2 separate regions of the Homo sapiens genome follow, and region 1 is linked to region 2. Evidence: fine-mapped expression QTL. A gene starts in region 2. The other region holds a variant in brackets. All regions are shown on one strand. Distances are from middle to middle.

Region 1 (9,093 bases), 99 kb before region 2:
GGGACTGAGCAGCCGGGGGCACGGAGGCTCCCCTTGAAGATCCGGCTCTGGAGAGACAAGAGGGAGGAAAGGCAGCGAGCCTGCCTGGTAGGGGTGCGCAGGGGTGGGGGCAGCGGAGGAGACGTGCGCGCTAGCTCCGGTACTGGGGCGCAGGGAGCGTAGCCCTGGGCCGCTCTCGAGTCTGGCGGTGCATCGGCGCGACCTGGAGTGAAGCGCCGAGACGAGGCGGGGTCGGGGTCGGGGTGGGGGTCCAAGGCCAGTACAAGACGCAAGGGTGTGGGGGACTAGGCTAGGAGCACAGGGGAGCGCTCAGTGAGCGATTTTCCAGCCGAGCCGCTACAAGCCCCATTGGGCACTCAGCAGCCGGCGTGTGGGCCAGCGGGGGGAGGGCGCACGGGGCGGGCATGTCTGGTTCGGTGTCTGGTTCCCGTTGTTGTGTCTGGCTAATTCCCTGGAAAGAAAGAGGCTAACTGCTCCGGGGACTAGGGACTTTGGTGAGACAAGGTGAGAGGGGGAAAAAGGCCCATATCTTTACGTTCTCCCTCGGACTTGGCCAGAGAAGAACCACAGTCACCTTGCACTCCAGACAGCCAGAAAGCAGCGAGTCGGAATGTTGCTTGCCTCCCTCTTATCCCAGCCGGTTTTTAGCCATCGCTAAGCCTAGGGCGAGGTTTCGGTCCGGTTTCAGCGTTTCTCCTCTACCTAGCCCCCTGAGGACCCCAGATTTCTCGCGGTACAGATCCAGAGAGGGTGGGGTAAGTAAGCATGGGGAACGTCACCGGGGAAACGAACTTGCGCGCAGCGCGCAGGAGGCGGCGGACAAAGATCTTGCGCGGCGCCCCTGCTCGACTCTCGGCGCTGGCGCGATGGCGCCCGAAGGCCCCGGGACAGAGAGATTGCGGGCTAATCTGGGTAGATCGAGGACCCCACAGAGAAGGGCCCACCGGCCATCGCCTCCACACCCTCCCTCCGACCTCACTCCTAGCCCCGCGCGCGCAGTCGCACAGCAACTCGGGCAGCGGGTCGACTACGGCCCCTGGAAAAGTAACAGGTTACCGTTCCTAGTAGCGCCTTCGGCTGCTGCTGCCCAGGCGCCCTTTGGAGGGACAGGCGCTCGCAGCATGGAAGCTCAAGGGAAAATCGCTCTTGCCCCACTTCAACTAGAGCCTCAGCCTCCGTGCTTCCCCGGGGCGTGAATCCGGAGGGCAGGGATAAGAAGAGTGACGAGGGAGGCGGGGGGGGGGGGGTCCCTGCGCAGCGCACCCGTGGAGAGCAGGGACTAGGGCGGGCAGGAAGCACTCATTTCGGGAGGTTGGGTGGCCGGCGCTGGGATGGGGTTGGTTGAGAAGCCGCGGGAGGAGAGGACCTGGCTGAAAAGCCACGGTTGGGCGCTGGGAAGTCCAGGTGGTCGCTAGCTTACCCACCTCGGCTCTGCGACAGCGAGCCGGGCACTCCCGCCTTTCCTCTGCACAGCGCCCAGCGATCCGCTCGGCTCGGCCCTGACAGGCGTAATCTGCCCGGCGTCACCTCCAGCTGCTTCCTCGTTCTCGCTAGTTCCCTCTCGCACGCGAGCGCCAGGAGAAGAGAGAGATTCGGAGAGGCGGCTGCACGGCTCCGGGGTAGGCGGGGGCAGAGTGGGGAGGCGGGGACCGGATCGGCGGGGAAATCACGAGGCCGTTGCTCGCGGGGGCAGCTAGTCGGCGGAGCGGCGGGGCTCCTCTGCAGGTGCCTGACCGCCTCTGGAGCTTTATAGGGCGATTATAAATCCAGCTCACGGTTTTGCGCCCGGAAGGAAAAAAAAAAGGTCTTATGAGTAATCCAGAACGTACTCAACACGCTTTTTTTTTTTCCTTTGGAAATAGGCAGGCTGTCGGGTGAGAGGAGGGAAAAGATAATTCCTACGAAGAATTCTGCCTTTCTGAGCGTTTCTTCTTCCCTCCCCTCCTTTCCCCTCTCCCATTTCCCCTCCCCCTCCCATATATTGTAGGAGACGAGCGGCGGTTTTGCCTCAGTGCTTTTCCCCGGGGTTCCCCCAGATCTGTGACCCTGCGACGCTTCCTTGAGCGAAAGCGCGCTTTGGGTCGTGTCCTCGTTGGCTCTCTACGGAGCTGGGATTGTTGTAACCGCAAAGGAGGCAGAAATGAGGGGAGACCTCTTAGACCATGGAGGAATTACAGTTTCCTCATCCAGCCCTGGGCCCCATCAAAGTACCACACCTGGCCACAGCTACCCAGTGCCACCGGCAGAGAAAAGGACCCCGCGTCCCTTTTGCTATGCGCTCGCTCCTCGCTTTGGCCCCCTTGGTGATGGGAAAAGAAGGCCTCCTGATTAATCACGTTTGAAGGTTGATGACACGCACGAGCGCCGCTGCACGCGCATGGGGCACCCGAGCACAGAGGTGCCCGGAAGGGGCGGACCAGCCCCCCTTGCCCTGGCCCGCTCCCCCTTCGATTTCACGCGCTTTAAGGATTCTCCCTTTGCAATATTTAGGCGTAGTTAAAAGAACCGCTGCGTTGGGAGAAGCCCCTCGCCGTAAAAATGCGTTGAAAGAGAAATTCCCACCAGAGGGCGCCAAGAGCCCAGAGACGGAGAGGCCCTGCGCTCCCGGGTCTCTCCGCCAGCGCCCGAGCGGAGCCCACACCTGGAGCTGCTGGCCAGACGGTTACGCGCCGGCTTGCCTCTTCATGCCTTCCCTCACCGCCCTGTCACTAGTTTAAGTTCTCCCCTTTCTTCTCCCCCAGTTTTTTTCTTTAGGGCAAAAATGTTGATGTCTGTGCGTGTCTGGGTGACACCGTGTAGGCAGTGATTCCTTTACTGGTATTTACCGTGGTCCTCCCCCTCTCCCCAGGTGGTGCAGCACGCAGGGGTTATTTATGCGCACGTCTGGGGCCTCACTGGTTCAGCGGAGGCCCGTCCGTTTTCTTTGAATGCCTTATCGCCTTTCACCACAACACAATGGAAACACACACAAAAATATTATAAATTACCGAGAGTTCCATAAGGGAGATCGAAGGGTCCGCCCTGGGCAGACATGGCCTGATCAGCAAGAGGGATCTCGCTGTGGGGTTTGAAATAATCGCGTTGCCTTTGGTACTAAAGAAACTACTGTTTTGTCGCCTTGTCTCCACCTGACGATGAAATCCCCGGCACTTTTTAAGGACACAAAAAACATCCTAAACGGCGGGGCGCGCGGTGACTGCAGCCCCGGGCACTGAGGCTTGGGGCTGGACAGGCTGGGGGTGTCTGCTCCACGTAGGAAACGTCCCCCCAAACCACTCAACCGGCAGCTGCTCTGCGCTGCTTGAAGTGGGCGGCATACAACCAGGTGAAGCTCGGAATTCCATCCACCGGCCCTCCTAGAGCCTTCCCTAAACGAGACGCTCGCACCAATCAGGGAGCCAGGTGCCAGTGCTAAATCATTCAAGACGCACGGGGCAGGAGACAGGAAGGAGGAGGCAACACATCTCCCGGTGCCCCTCGTTCTTCATTGTCCAGCATAGACGCCCGCTCGCCTCAACCTTTTCCCAAAACCCGTGATTCCCTGGAAAGGAAGATTCGTTTACTTCACCTGTGGCACGAGATTGAGACATTTCCAACCACTTCCTCCTTTGACCCCAGAGTTCAAAACACCCCTAACGTTTTAGCCAATGAAATAATCTCGTTGGAGAAGGAATCTCCTGCAAGGCTAGGTAACGCAAGCTGAAGCTGAGTCCGTCCAGCTTCGAGGACATCCCTCTCTTTCTCCTTTATGGTGAGTAGGGGAGGAATGAAGACTTTTGTCCGTCCTTGTTTAGAATGTTTAATTGAATATTAGCAGTAATTGATTAAACGAATATTTATTAATCCCCTACTATGTGCCAAGCACTTATTTTTTGGAGCTTGCATTGTCCCTGCGGTTTATATTATCCTGCACGCCGGGAGTGGACATTCCGGTGAGGCAGGGAGAGGAGCGCACTTAGAAACTTCATAAATTTGATTTAATTTTCAATGATCTCCTCCAACTCGAACTCTTGGGCACAGCAGGAATGGTAATGAATTGAAGGCCTGGAATTCCACTCCATCCAGATTACTGAGTTTT[G/C]AGGTAGGGCATAGATCTTTCAGCACGAAGGACAGCGCCCGTCCTTCTGGTCCCCATGCCTCTGTTTCGTTTGCTTCCGCCAATAGCTATGGGCCAACCCACCAGACTCGCCCCAGCCCTCCTCCCTCCTGACAGTAACTGCTGTTTGTTTTGCCTAGTTGGGGGGTGAGGTATTTCGCCCACTGCTCTTCTCTCCGGTAGGAATTTGAACTAAGAGTGGCCGTGGTTGTCATTCGGCTCTAAACAACATTTGAAACCTATATTTTTGTTTATGTCTTTCACTCTTCCTTTAATCTTTTATCATTCCTGGGGGAGGATTCTTGGGATAATGGGGGTGGAAAAAAGATATCCTCTCCGGGGACTCGAACCGGTGATGAGGGGTGGCCCGGAAGGGAGTGGTGTCCGCCCAGCTGTTTCGATTGTATTTGAAGCGCTTTGAAGAAATGGGAACGCGGCGCTCAAAGGCAGAAGAAGGAGGGGGCGATATGCGACCCCTCCAGTCTCTCTCCGGCATTAGGGATTTGCGAGCTTGCAGCCCCGGCTACTCCACCCTGTCTGCCGAGGATAACGTTTCCTTAGGTCAACCACCGCTGGGACTTGGGAACACGACCCTCCGCCCACAATGCCCTTTATTCCTTTCCCCGTCGTGGGTGGGTGGGGGATTGTTTAAAGATATTCCAACCGGATTTGGGGCCAAGCCTTTTCTGCAAAGGGAAAAACGGGTGAGTAGGAGGAGCGTGAGGCGTTGAAGGAGCGCCCAAACGGGCTGCGGGGAGATCTTCACGCCTAAAACGTGGTCAGTCAAGGTGAGTAGACAGGACACGTCAATTTTTTTTGACGCAATTAGAATTTTTAGCCTCCAGGAAACGTAATTTAGAGCCATGGTATTGGTTCGTTTCAGCTGGCTCCTTAAAATCTATTTTAAGTGTCTAATTTATGACCAGAAAGGAAAAAAAAAATGGCAGTGCTCACCGGTTAAACGTCTGTCTCCCGAGACGAGAACTGGGGGAAGCGTTACTTAACCTTTCATTCTGCTTAAGTCGGAGCTAAGGTCCATTTGCTGTTTTTGTACTTTAAAGATAGTTCCCTGAATTATTCTGGACTTTTTTGAAGGATCATAGCTAAATCCACACCCCCATCCCAACAGACCACACAACACTCACAGCTGGGAGGCAGGAAAATGTTAAAAGGGTGAGAGGGGGTGGGAGGGGTGACAGCAGAATGCTGGAAGGCTGGAGAGGACTCTAGGAATTACAGCCACTTTTTCTAAAGAAGAGAGCTGGATTCTTCGGATAACTGGCAAATGGTCCTTCCCCCTTGATAGTCAGAAGATGAAAATATTCTAATACAAATAAATGAATCAAGGAGGACAGGGTGATTTGTGTTTGGGCAAATCTCCTTGTGCAAATCTTGAAACGTCCAATTCTTGCTATTCTAAACTCGAAGACAGAATGACCACCAGGTGGCAATAGATTACAATTTCTGAGAAGAAACAACAGGCCTCCCAAGGGAGCAGTTCTTCAAGGAAGAATGCAGGCTCATACTCATCCCTGCCAAATTTCACAAAGCAGGGCCTTTTCAAATGGTCAGAAGTGCTCTGGAAGTGACCTGAAACACCTAGGGTAGTGCGTCTCTTTGGTGAAAGACTAGGGGGTGCATGGCATCTGTTTTTTTCCCACCTAGCTGTGTCTCAAATGTAGTGAACCTGTGAATATTAGGCAAGAAACTGATTCACTGCAAAACTGGAAACCAAGGAAATACAGTTCTGGATTGTAATTCTGATGGGGAGCTTTAAAGGTATATCTGTGTCTTCTGATCTCAACAAAAACCAAGGCGAAATCAGTCCTTCCCCAAAAGGGTGGGATGCAAAAAGGAGGATTTCCCACCTGAGATGCTTTAGTGAAATACAGAATTCATGGGAGACTGAGGAGAGTAATATTTTATTCATTTCTTTTAGTGTAAAAGCTCTTGGACTACTTAAAATAACAGATATTTAGTCCCCATTTTCAAACATAGGTATCTGGGACTGTTGTTTGTGAAAAGGTTCTGGAAAGTTCTGACTTAGTTGTGGCGAATCTAATAACTTAAACTTCTATTCCAGGCCAGGTTTCTTCCCCTAATCCTGACCAGTTACTCAGGGGAGGAAACTGGAACTTTAACAGAAGGGGTGCATGATTGATTGCCGTTCCCATTAGGCCCCACCTTCAACATTGGGGGTCACATTTCAGCACGAGATTAGAGAGGACAAACATCCAAACTATATCAAATATTGTGACAATAGCTGACGAATACACTCTCCTATACCAAGAAGGGCAACGGGGACTGTGTGCGGTGGTTCACGCCTGTAATCCCTGCACTTTAGGAGGCCGAGGCAGGCAGATCTCTTGAGGCCAGGAGTTCGAGACTAGCCTGGGCAACATGGAGAAACCCAATCTCTATTAAACATACAAAAATTAGCCAGTTATGGTGCTGCACGACCTGGAATCCCAGCTACTTGGGAGTCTGAGGCACGAGAATCATGTGAAGTCGGGAGGCAGAGGTTGCAGGGAGCCAAGATCGTGCCACTGCACTCCAGCCTGAGCAACAGAGTGAGACTCTTGCCTCAAAAAAAAAAAAAAAAAAAAAAAAAGCCAACGCAGGCGCAAGGTGGAACTCAGGGTAAAGTCTGACATAGGCTGCCCAGAATTGCTTACTGTGGGCCCAGTCTGGCCAACAGTGGTGGTGCTGGGGTCTGTGGGGGACATTAGAGAACTCTCTCTATATATCTCGGTCTCTCTTGCGGTCTCTCTCTCTTTAGCAACACGACTAATAATTATCCTCATAGAGGAAGGAAATAAGTCTCAGGGAAATTGTGTGGTGTGTTTATTGTATGAATTCTCAGTTAATTATCACCTGAGGTCTTCTGTTTTCTTGATGAGGAAACTTAAGTCCAGAGAGGCTACAGGACTTCCCAGACCACATGCTTAGTGCGCAGGGGGCTGGAAATGCTTTCTTCTTCTCTCAGTCCCAGCGCCTTATGCTTGTTCAGTGAAGCCTTCTGGCTCTGTCACATAATAATCATTTGACCTTGGAAAAATCACAGAATCTCTCCAGACCCCCATAATGGGAGGGTTTGGGTACAAGATAAGACCAGATGAGGTTTCATTCATCTGAAACAATTTATTATTACAGGTATTTTGTGATTCTTCTCACTGGCAACTCTTCTCATGTTGTAAATACCATGGACTCAAGAACCTCTTGAGGCCCTCAAGGCAGCTTTTACTGGGAGAAAAGCAAAAATGTTGAAGTCAGTCTGACTTGAGTTTACATCTAGATTCTACTTATCGGCTATTGTTTGACTGCTCCAAGTTTACTTCTAAGTAAAATGGGGGTTAATATCAGCCTTGTGGGCTATCTTATTTGATGCTCATAGAACCCATTTTAGGCCGGGCGTGGTGGCTCACGCCTGTAATTCCCAGCACTTTGGGAGGCTGAGGCAGGCAAATCACCTGAGGTCAGGAGTTCGAGATCAGCCTGGCCAACGTGGTGAAACCCCCGTCTCTACTAAAAATAAAAAAATTAGCCAGGCATTGTTGCGCACGCCTGTGATCCCAGCTACTCAGGAGGCTGAGGCAGAATTGCTTGAACCTGGGAGGCAGAGGTTGCAGTGAGCTGAGATTGCCCACTGCACTCCAGCCTGGGCAACAGAGCAAGACTCAGTCTCAAAAAAAAGAGAACCCATTTTAGCAAGCTCAAGTGTGCCTAGTTAATGGTGTTCAATACATGTTTAATAGCTGCTTCTGCTCCTTCCCCTTAGTTCAACAGTGATTTTGAACAAATTAAATTTGTTCTCCTTGGATGTATAAGCTAAGCATAATATTTGTATTATTTTGCCAATTTCTTTTAGTAGAGCTACTGATCATTCCCGGACATAGGACTCAAAGCCCTCCTCTTTAGTGCCTTAGAGGTTTTTATTAGTCCACAAAGATAGTTTGATTTGTAGAGAAAGTTTTCTGATGGAGTATTCAGACTCTCTTAGGAAAGGGAGAGAGGGAGCCAGTTTTGTGATGAGGTGACATTTATACATAATTATGGATTTCTGCTGGGATTCAATCTTTTGATCGTTTCAATTTTCCTACCTTCATTCTCTCCCTCTGTAATCTCATCCAATCTGGCAGTTTTAAATATCTTAATTTTTATTTCAATTAAAATAAAAAAATTTAGATGTTATTGACTCCCAAATTTATATCTTTACCCTGAACCTCTGTTCAGCATTCCAGGTTGATATGTCCAGTTGAATTTTCCACTTGGATTTTTTTTTTTCTTTTTTCTTTTTTTTCTTTTGAGGTGGAGTCTCGCTCTGTCGCCCAGTTGGAGTGCAGTGGCGTGATCTCGGCTCACTGCAACCTCTGCCCCCTGGGTTCAAGCAATTCTCCTTCCTCAGCCTCTCTCGTAGCTGGGATTACAGGCATGTGCTACCACGCCCGGCTAATTTTTGTGTTTTTAGTAGAGACAGGGTTTTGCTATGTTGGCCAGTCTGGTCTCGAACCCCTGACCTCAGGTGATCCACCTGCCTTGGCTGCCCAAAGTGCTGGGATTACAAGCATGAGCCACCACACCTGGCCATCCACTTGGATTTCTAATAGGCATCTGAAACTTAAGGTGTCCCAAATTGAACTCCTGATACTTTTTTCCAAACCTGCTGCTATTACAGTTTTCTCCATCTCTGTAAATAACTAGAGGCAATTCCACCTTCCAGTTGGTCTGGTCCAAAACCTTGGAGTTATCACTGACTTCTTCCTTACAATCTGTCAGTAAATTCTGGTGGAGCTACTTTCAAACTTTAACAACTTCACTCTCTATTTCTGCTCTTACTATCCCTTGTTTCCTTCCCTAACACACACAATGTAAAATACTAGGTCATACTCATATCATGGCTTTCCTCTACTCAAAACCCTCTAATGATTCCGCATCTCAGAGGAAAAGACAAAGTCTTTATAATACTGACAAAGCCCTACACGGTCTGACCTTGTTAC
Region 2 (9,093 bases):
TGATTGGCTCTGTCAATAATAGCTAGTAGACTCATTTTTAAATGGCCATTTTTCTTTCTCTACCAAGGTCATTCTTTCAGATGAAAGAATCATTTCAAATTTTGAGTCCAAAGCCTTTGAAAATTTTCACTCTCTAACAAGGATTCCTCTTTCTCACCACTTTCCAAAAATCCTTTTCTGAATCTATAGTTGATCCCAGGGCATGGTTCAGATGGGAGTTTCTGTAACTTTTTAGAGAAAGGTGAGAGTTTCTATAACTTTTCACATTGCTTTAGACATCAAAATGTGTAGTCTTGATCTAATGACTTAGATCTAATGATTTTGATTAAGATTACATATTTAAGTGTATATTAATATTACTGCCTAGCAACTTTATCACTATTGCTTGCAAACTGCCACACCCTTGAAAATGTAACCCAAACTCCTCTTCCCAGGTGAAGAACCATGAAGACTCACATTCTAATTAGTCATTAAATAGTTCCAATATCTCTTATTCTAAGGTATATTGCCACTATGAATCTAATATTCATTTACTACCTTGTCCCAAGTTACAGAATAAAAATGCCATTTCTTAGGAGTATAAAAGTAATTTTCATCTGAATTATGTTGATATTTGTGTTTTACTTCGTATAAGAATTCAAGAACAACCCTCAAAGCTTTTAAGAACTGATCCTTCAGTTTGACTTCAAACAAAAGGCAAAGTAAAAGCAGTTTGTGAACTGTGAAATCCTATCAATTTGTACACACTTCAACTATCATGAAAAGATTATTCGGCTCTATTAAAATTTGGCATTAATGATGCTAGCTTAACATGTTAATAAAATTTAGAACATTTTCTGTTCTTTGCTAATCTTAAATCAAGATTTAACTGCTGATAAAAGTTTCAGTTACAGGTTTAAAAACTCAAATATTAGAAAATATCAAGGAGTTAGACACTTGATAAAACATTTGTAAACTTCAAAACTTCAACTTTTAGAGAAAGGCGAGGCACCTAGACAAAAAATACCCTATTTCCACATTTCCAAACCATGAGTATTCCTGGCTCTTCCCTGAGAAAATCTTAGACTACTTCAATGATTAAAAACATAATAAAATTCAGATACAAAATGGAACTAAACGTCCTGGCCTAGCCAGAAATTCCTGGGTGGTTACTGTGAAATAAGACTTGTTAAGATTTCCATCGCAAGATTAAAAAGAAAACAAGCAAAACAACGCTGGCTATCGTGACGGGACTGAAATACAGGAGTGGCGTCTGGGAAACTATCTTCTTGGTTCTTTCCCAGGCAAAGACCAACCTGAACAAGGGTCCCGTTTCTCTGTACCTCTCCACAAAGTCTCACCTGTGAACAGATCCTGGCGCCTCTAATACCTCTCTTAACACCAGCATAGTTGTGACCTGTCCCGAGAGTACCAACAAATAGAAAGCCACAGGGAATTCGTCAGGTAAAAACAAACTTGGAAGACAAACAGTCTCGGGTGAATCCTAAGGCCGCATGAGAAACTCAAATTGTGATTGGAAAATCTTGCCCTACCTCTTTACCACAAAACGGAATTGCCTGCCTTTGTCCATTCCTGAACCCAACACATTTGCCCAGATCCTTCCAAACCAAAGAAGCCTCCGACACAGGCAGACTATAGGAACCATCAAATTCCCGGGGAAACCCGACCGCTTAGTACAGCCACCCAGAAGAAGAAAAGATCAAATGAGACCGGCTCAACGGGGTCTTCCTGTAGTGACCCCTGAGTTAAAGTATTTATTTTCACGCTGCAACTGCTGATCACTTTACAGAGACATATCATGCTGTAGCTCTGCATGGAGCTGAAGACAAAAGCAACATTTTTATTAATGTTATAATTATTATAATTATCTTTAACAAAGCTATTAAATAACCTGTACAAAGCCCAAACCGGTCCTAGCGAAAACCCGAGCACTGTTTCAAATCTCCCAAGTTCCTTTCTATTCAGTTCAGCAGCATTTCCTATATACAAGGCCAGACCAGGGTGGTCCCCCGAAACTGTAGGTCTCCCTGACGGTGGGAACGGTTTAGAGTTTGGAACCGCCCTGGCGTACGGCAGAGCTCCCAATTACAATCCAAATGCCCCAGCCCCAACCCTACCTCCCCGCTCCTGGGAACTGGGTCCCTATGTCCGAAGGCAGCGGAAGTTGGAAGCCTGGCTCCATTTTGGGAGGCAGGCAACGGAGAGGGTCCGTCTGCTGAGTCTCCCCTCCGCCAGCTGCCCACAGGTCCCCGGATCTCTCGCAGAGGTGCTGGGAAGGGGGTCCACCTCCGGGAGGGCTCACAGGTCCCGCGCGTCCTCCCGCTTAACCCCGGCCTCAGCGACTTTGAGCTTCTTATTCTGGTGAGTCTTGACGTGCTTCGCGAGGTGGTCGCTGCGCATGAAGCGCTTGCCGCACTCGGGACAGGCAAAGCGCTTCTCGCCCGTGTGAGTCCGCAGGTGCCGCTGCAGCTCGTCCGAGCGCGTGAAGCTCTTCCCGCAGAAGAGCCAGTTGCACACGAAGGGTCGCTCGCCCGTGTGCCAGCGCAGGTGCGCCTTCAGGTGCGACGTCTTCCCGTACACCTTGCCGCAGCCCGGCACGTGGCACACGTGCTGCTTCTTCTTCCCCGGCTCCGCCTCGGGGGCGCCGCCCGCCGCCTGGCAGTTGGGACAGCGGCAGCGGCGGCACCTCCTGGCCGTGGCCGCCAGGGGGGCCTTGGTCTGCAGCAGCGCGGCGATCTGGCTCTGGTACTGCGCAAAGTCCGACGGGCCCAACACCAGGCCTCTTTGTAGGGCGGCGGCGGCCGCAGCAGCAGCGGCCGCAGAGGCGGGGAAGCGGGGCGCGTGGGGGGCCCCGGCACAGGCGCCGGAGAGGCCGCTTCCCGGAACCCCGGAGGCCCCCGGCCCGGCGCCCGCCTGCGGGATGCTCCACCACGGGAGGTCGTCGGGGGCCGGGTTGGGTGACAACTGGCGGCAGGTGGGCGGCGGGGGCGGTGGCGGCGGCGGAGGCAGCAGGTTGGAGTAGCCTGGCGGCAGCGCGGCCTGCGCCGCGTAGGGCACGTAGGCGGGCGCGCAGCTGGCGGGCAGAGCCGCCATGCTCGAGGGCAGCATCTTGACCGGCGAGAACTCGTAGGGGTACGAGGGGTCGGCGGGGGGTGTAAGGGGAAGCTCGTGCGCAGCCCCGAAGGACGGCTGCAGGTGCGTCTTCTGCGGCGTCAGCCCCAAGCTGGGATGCGGGGGCGGCAGTGCGCCTGGCGAGTGCGCCGGCATGTCGGCGGTCCACGGGTGGAAGAGCCTGGAGGGTGAGCCCAGCGCGGGGTCGTAGGGCACCTGCAGGAAGTCCGGGGGCGCCGCCGCGCCCGGCTGGCCGATGCGGCTACAGGTGGCGGCCAGCAATGCCAGGGGCGAGTGCTTGCCCAGGTCCGGGGAGGCGCTGGGGGTGCGGTCCTGCATAGGCGGCGAGGGAGGGCGGAGAAGAGACAAAAGGTTAGCTCCAAGCGCGGACTCCGGGCCAGCCCGCCGCCCCCACGCCCGCTATTATACCGCCGCCCCTCCTCCGTCCCGGCCGTCCCTCCCCCGCCACCGCACCCCACGCACGCACCCACCGGCCGAGGGAAACTTTTGGTGCCTGCGCTACCTGAACGTGGGGCCCGCGAGCGCTTCTTGCTAAACTACTTGGTGCACTGAGACGCCATCCAGCCTTAGAGGAAGCAGGCGCGAAGTGGGAGGGGGAGGCATCCGACGGGCCCCTCCCGGCTCCGTGGTCAGTAAGAGTCGGGAAACACCCACAACCCCGCCGGCCGGCCGCTCTCCCTCCCATCTTTTAAGCTCTCTTGTCCTCACTGCCTTCGCGCTCCTCCCTGGCCCGCCCCAGGCTGAAATCAGCAGGAGGGCCCAGCAGGGTGAGCTCCGGTCCTGTTCTCGGCCAGCCGGGCACCTCCGAACAATCCCGGATCCACGCGTCCCTCCAGCAAAGGCCACACCGGATTAGGTGTGAAGTTGGCGTGGGCACCCCTAGGCCTGGCTCCAGCTGCACCCATCGGCGGGGTTCCCTTTGAGGTTCAAGGTGCACGGAGTACCAGGAGAGATCCGGACACGGCCCTTTCCACCTTTCTCCCGCCCCCTCCGGGCTCGGCCCTGACCTGGAGAAAGGCCTGCAGCGAGTCGTTCCGGAGGACGGCCACCGCGGCCATGGCTACGGCTTGCAGGCCCCTGGCTGCGGAGCGGGACGCCGCCGCCGAGGCATGGACACCCGAAGGCGAGGACGAAGGGCCGCCCAGCCTGCCTCCCTGGCGCCTGCTCTGAGCGCCGGGGCCCTCCCCGCCCTTGCCCCTCGCCGCGCCCCGCTCGCTCGCCCCGCGCGCGGTCTGAGCGCTTCAGGATCACCTCCAAGAATTTGATAAGGACTTTGCTGGGCCGCCAGCCAGTCAGAGGGAAGATTTATGGCTTTGAAGTTTGCCGCTACCCAATCATCAAAGAATAGCGGCTCTTTCAGAAGCGAAAGCAAATCCTTTGAATCCACAAAGCTCCTATGGTGTGTTTGTTGGTCTGGATAAAAGAACTGATTATTAGGGGGGATGGGAAGGGAGGAGATAAAGGCGGGACAATTAATGAAGTAATCACTATGTGGGAAATGTATATACACAAATAATTGGATTTTCCTGATCAAAGGGGGCCTTGCCGCCTGGAGACCCGCGCTTGGGTTGCTCGAGACACTCTTCCCGCCCCCCCCAACATACACACACACACACACACACACACTTGCAATTAAAGATTTGCACCGACGCAGCGCCCAAAGTGACAAAGTGTCTTTGTTATCTCTGGAAAAATCTGCCTTCGGCTTCCAGGCGCCGGACTTTGAGACGGCAAAGAGTGTAACTCTCCCCTGTATTTACTTGCACACCCTGCACCCTCGCCGCACACGCACCCGCCCGCGCACACAGCGGACCCAAGCGAGATCCCCGGTGGGGCGTGGGACCGACAGCGCCCGGCCCGCCGCGTGTCCCCCGCCCGCCGCGGTGGGGCCGAGGGCAGGGCTGTGACCTGGGGCGGGGCCGGGCGGCCGCCCAGCGCGGCGTTGGGTGGCGCGCACGCTCCAGGGCCGCCCGCCTGACGAGCGACCGGGGCTCTCCTGTGACGTTCCTGCTGGCGACCTGGAAGTTTTCCTCAGGCCACAACTTTTGCAGAGTGGACCTGGGAAAAACACCCGCGCCGCGCATACCCTCAAAGCTGAGCTCGGCAGGACACCCAAGGCGACCCGTCATGCCCACCCGAGGGGAAGAAGCTGTGCTGTCCCGCCCCCTTCTCCCCAGGCCACCCAGGAGGCCCGGGCTGGGCTGTGGGGGGCCGAAAGCCCCAGCGCTGCTGGTGATTTCTCGCCCGGAGCCCCGCCAAGCCAGCGCGCCCTCTCGCAAGCCTGGCAGACCAGGAGCTACTGGAAAAAAGGCGCGGTCGAGGAAGCCTGGTTGTTGTGGTCCCACAAACCACAAATCATACGAGAGAGGATCCCGAAGGCGGGAGAAAAGTCAGTACAGACTTGTTCCTGCCACCTTTGGAAAGAAAAAGTTCCTCACCAGGCGCGGGGCGTGCTTTGCTCTGGGCAGGGTCGCGCTTGCAGGGGCTTGGGTGACCCCCATCCCTCCCTGGCGGCTCACCTCCTGCCGAGGAGGGCCACCTGCCTCCTCCTGGCCCAGGGCGCAGGGCGCGTCCTGCCCCGGCACTGCGGACGCGGGGATCGCCTCTCCCGGGCGCGCGGGCGGGGAAGGAGGAAGAGGCGGGCGGGGAACCGCGGGGTGCTCACCGCCCTGGGGCATTAGGGGTGCGGAACCGCGTTGGAGGCCTCGCGGCCCCGGCTCGCGAGAGCGCACTGCGGAGTGGCCGCCGGAGCTCGGCCTACTCCTCTCCCCCACCCACCTCCCGTCGGACACAGTCTCCACTCTCCAGGCCGCCGGCCGTGGGGGAGCCCCTAATCAGTTCGCGCCCGGCCTCTCTGCCCGTCTTCCTCACGGGAACCGCACTGCGACCGGGACGGACGGGGTGACCTATCTCCCGATGCAGCGTCAGAGGTTAGCCTAACTACAACGGACTCGGAATCTGGACTGTATAAGGATGCCCTCCGCACTTCCATCAGGGGTCGGGGATGCGATGCCTCCGGGCCCACCTTCTCCCACGCCCAGGGCGCGCCTGCGGAATGAGAATATCGTACTCAAGACGGGTGGGCTGCTTGCGACCCAAATACAATGGGTCCCTCGCACATCCTGCACTCGCACGCCCCCTTCTCCCCCAACGAGTTGTCCCCTCTAAAACGCGAGCGGCGACCACACAACTTGGCCGACCCGATCTGGCTTCTGAAGATGAGGTCGGCTGCTCTGGGAGCGGAGAAGGGGAGAGAGCTTAGTGGTTTCATCCGAGGCCTGGCCAACCTGCTCCTTCCCACGCTCCCGTCCAGGATTTGAGTCTTGGAGAAGCGTGAGACTCGAGGGAGCTCTTCCCTGGATGCAAGTCGGAGGCCAGGGAGCCCCTTGGCACACACTCGCGCCTGCACATGCTTGCACCCTCGAAGCGATCTGGTTCCTTAGCGCTGGTTTCCTTTCCAGCTTCTTTGAGATCTTCGAAGTCCCCTTTCCCAGGGAGGCGGGCAGGGCCGGGCTAAGCAGGATGGAAGGCAGCCCTTTTTATTGAATCTGATAGCTACTTTCCCAAAAAGGCCAGAAAAGCCATTTCACATCCCCATAGTTATGGGAATTAGCTTTTTCTCCAAGATGCCCCCATTAGCCAGTTAAACCATCAGTGGGCCAACAGGGTCAAAGTTAGTGGCTTGGTGGTTGAAAGCTCGGAGTCCGAACTCTCTGAAGACATTTTTCCCGCCTTGCCACTTTCTAGTTGGTGACCTTGGCAAGCAAGGTACTCAGCCGCTGTGTACCTCAGTTTTGCGGTTTGTAAAATGGGAGTTACAATAGTGCACCCCTTGTAGAGTGGCTATAGGTTTAAGAGTTAATATACGCAAGGTCTTTAGGACGGTGCTGAGCGTACAGAAGGCCCTCTCTTGAGTGGTCGCAGTTGGCTGCTCTCGGCCTCATCTCCGTTTGTGAAAACCCGTCCAGATTCCGGTCCTCCCAGGCCCCAGCTGAAGTTTGGAGAGAGGCTTTGCTGAATAGCTGTTTAGTCTCCCCCAACCCCCTTGGCCCTCGGAGCTCCTGGAAAAAGTTCTTAATGAAGTAATGTTGAGAGCGTCCATTAAAAATGCAATGCTGGGAGATCAAAGTACAATATTTATTTTAGAAATTTGTTGTAATCACCAAGAGATACAGGTATCAAGGCCAAATGTCAGTTCCATTACACAAAGCCCCGCGCCCGGGAAGAGCGTGTGGCTGCTCTGCCATAATGTAAAGAGACATCAAAGACCGAGCGCGCTGCAAAAGTGCGCAGCTGTGGGGGAGAGAGTAAGCCCGGGAGGGCCAGGCGCGCCCCAGACAGCGCGGGGGCTGCGGGGGCGGGGGTCAGTTCAAAGAGGTATCCGTTGGGGCGCGAGTTCACAGGAGGGAAGATTTAATGGGCTTTCTTTTGTTGGTGGGTGTGTTTGCGCACGGTGGACCCAGGAACTCCTATGTGGTCCTCCTGCCTCGGGGCGGAGATGGGGGTGGGGTGGGAGCTGCGAATGTGGAGCAAACTTTAACCGTGGCGGGGGGCGGGGAGGTTGAATACCAGTCTCCTGGCGGCGGCTGGCACAGCGGAGCTGCTCTCCAAGCAGCGGGGTTCCCAGGCTGGGAAGTTTGCATTGCCGTTTCTTTGCGGGCGGGCGGCGAGCGCCGACTGCATGCCACCTGCGAGAGGAAGAGGCCGGTAGGTGAACCCGCAGTGACACTTGCGCAGGGGACGGACCAGCTCTGCGCGCTCTGGGATTAAGTCAGGGGTTGCTACTTCCAGCCCAAGCTTGGTACCTCGCCTCGGGCATTTTCTTGCAGCTAGAAGGGACGCATGCCTCTGGCATAAATCCAACCAGAGAGTCACCCCTCTCAAGCTAGATTTTTTAAAAATCTAGATATTATTTAGATCATTTCAGCAAATTCTTAATGCTTTGGCCTTTCACAGTAAGATGTTGCTTAATCGGCTGGATCTCCCCACTCCTTGCCAAGGAGACTCAATTTTGCAGTTGCCCATATCTGCCTAGTTAAATCGTTGCTATACTAAAGGTTCTGGGAGGGTGGGGACAGAATTTCCCCGGTGCTAATGCGGCACTGAATCGCAGGAGGCTGCCCATGCATTTCTTCAGTCATCTACAACCAAGAATTCTCAGAGCAGTCCCTCGGCAGCCTTTTGAAGCTGTGCTAGAGCAGAAAGCTGCTATTGTTCTCATCTCTCAACAAGGAAAGGTTCAAACTTTGCCTCTTCAATTTGAAAGATTTTTTTTTTATGGTGGTGGGGGGAGGGATTGCAATCTGATACTCAAAGTTAACTTTGAGGATTTGGAGTGGTCTCCCAGTTTAAGCTGCAGATCAAATCACAGATGCCCTAACGCCTGCATCTCAAGTCGGGGGCACTTCATCATTAATACGGTGGAGTAGTCAATCACAAGCAATTACAACGTGGGTAACCTAGCCTGGTGACCGAGCTAGTTTACTTTCCAAGGAAGTGGGACCATTTCCTCAACTGGAATCCTTGAATTAATTTTAAACTTAAACTTCCAAATTGGATCAGTATACAATACTGGTTGTAGAACTAGGAGGAATTTTTAAAAATCTCATCTAATTCTCCCTCATTTGGTGGGAGGAGGAAACAGCATTTGTATGATATGTATCCTGCCTGCACAATGCTGTGAGCTTCAGTAGATGCTCAATAAATGCTCATTGATGTTGGGTGGTAGAGTGGAATTGTGTGTACCAATGTCATCAGCGTATGACTGGTGCCACAGAGCACACAAATGTAGTAGGAAGTCAGAGAGGATTGGTGAGGACTGGGGTGGTCAAAGGAGGCTTTATCAAGGAGCTGGGGTTTGGAGGAGACTTTAAGGACCTACAGAATTTTAACTTTAGTTAATTTTAGTGCAAAGAAAGGAAGAAGGTGAAGGGGAAAGGGACAGTAGAAGAAAGAGAATTC

Evidence for each region. PIP is the estimated chance that this variant, and not a neighbour inherited with it, causes the effect.
Region 1: its variant is fine-mapped to the expression of LINC01124 in tibial artery (GTEx, PIP 0.95).

Annotation. Positions count from the first base shown.
Region 1 is chr2:170,809,380-170,818,472 of GRCh38, reverse strand. It overlaps GAD1 (glutamate decarboxylase 1), which reads right to left and starts at 1,586. Exons shown (of 17, transcript NM_000817.3): 1 at 1,425-1,586. It overlaps GAD1-AS1 (GAD1 antisense RNA 1), which reads left to right. Exons shown (of 4, transcript NR_197761.1): 1 at 1-87; 2 at 558-755; 3 at 1,441-1,619; 4 at 1,988-3,850. RefSeq lists enhancers at 1-195, 1,435-1,604 and a silencer at 1,692-1,771. The variant G/C (reference allele first, on the strand shown) is at 4,079.
Region 2 is chr2:170,710,610-170,719,702 of GRCh38, reverse strand. LINC01124 (long intergenic non-protein coding RNA 1124) reads left to right here and starts at 5,136. Exons shown (of 1, transcript NR_027433.1): 1 at 5,136-7,264. SP5 (Sp5 transcription factor) reads right to left here and starts at 4,366. Exons shown (of 2, transcript NM_001003845.3): 1 at 4,140-4,366; 2 at 1,625-3,444. The coding sequence starts at 4,190. The coding sequence ends at 2,299. The region is part of intron 5 of ERICH2-DT (ERICH2 divergent transcript); the gene reads left to right. It overlaps LOC100130256 (a long non-coding RNA gene), which reads left to right and starts at 7,696. Exons shown (of 10, transcript NR_187629.1): 1 at 7,696-7,839. RefSeq lists enhancers at 2,415-3,204, 3,205-3,992, 3,993-4,782 and a silencer at 5,000-5,049.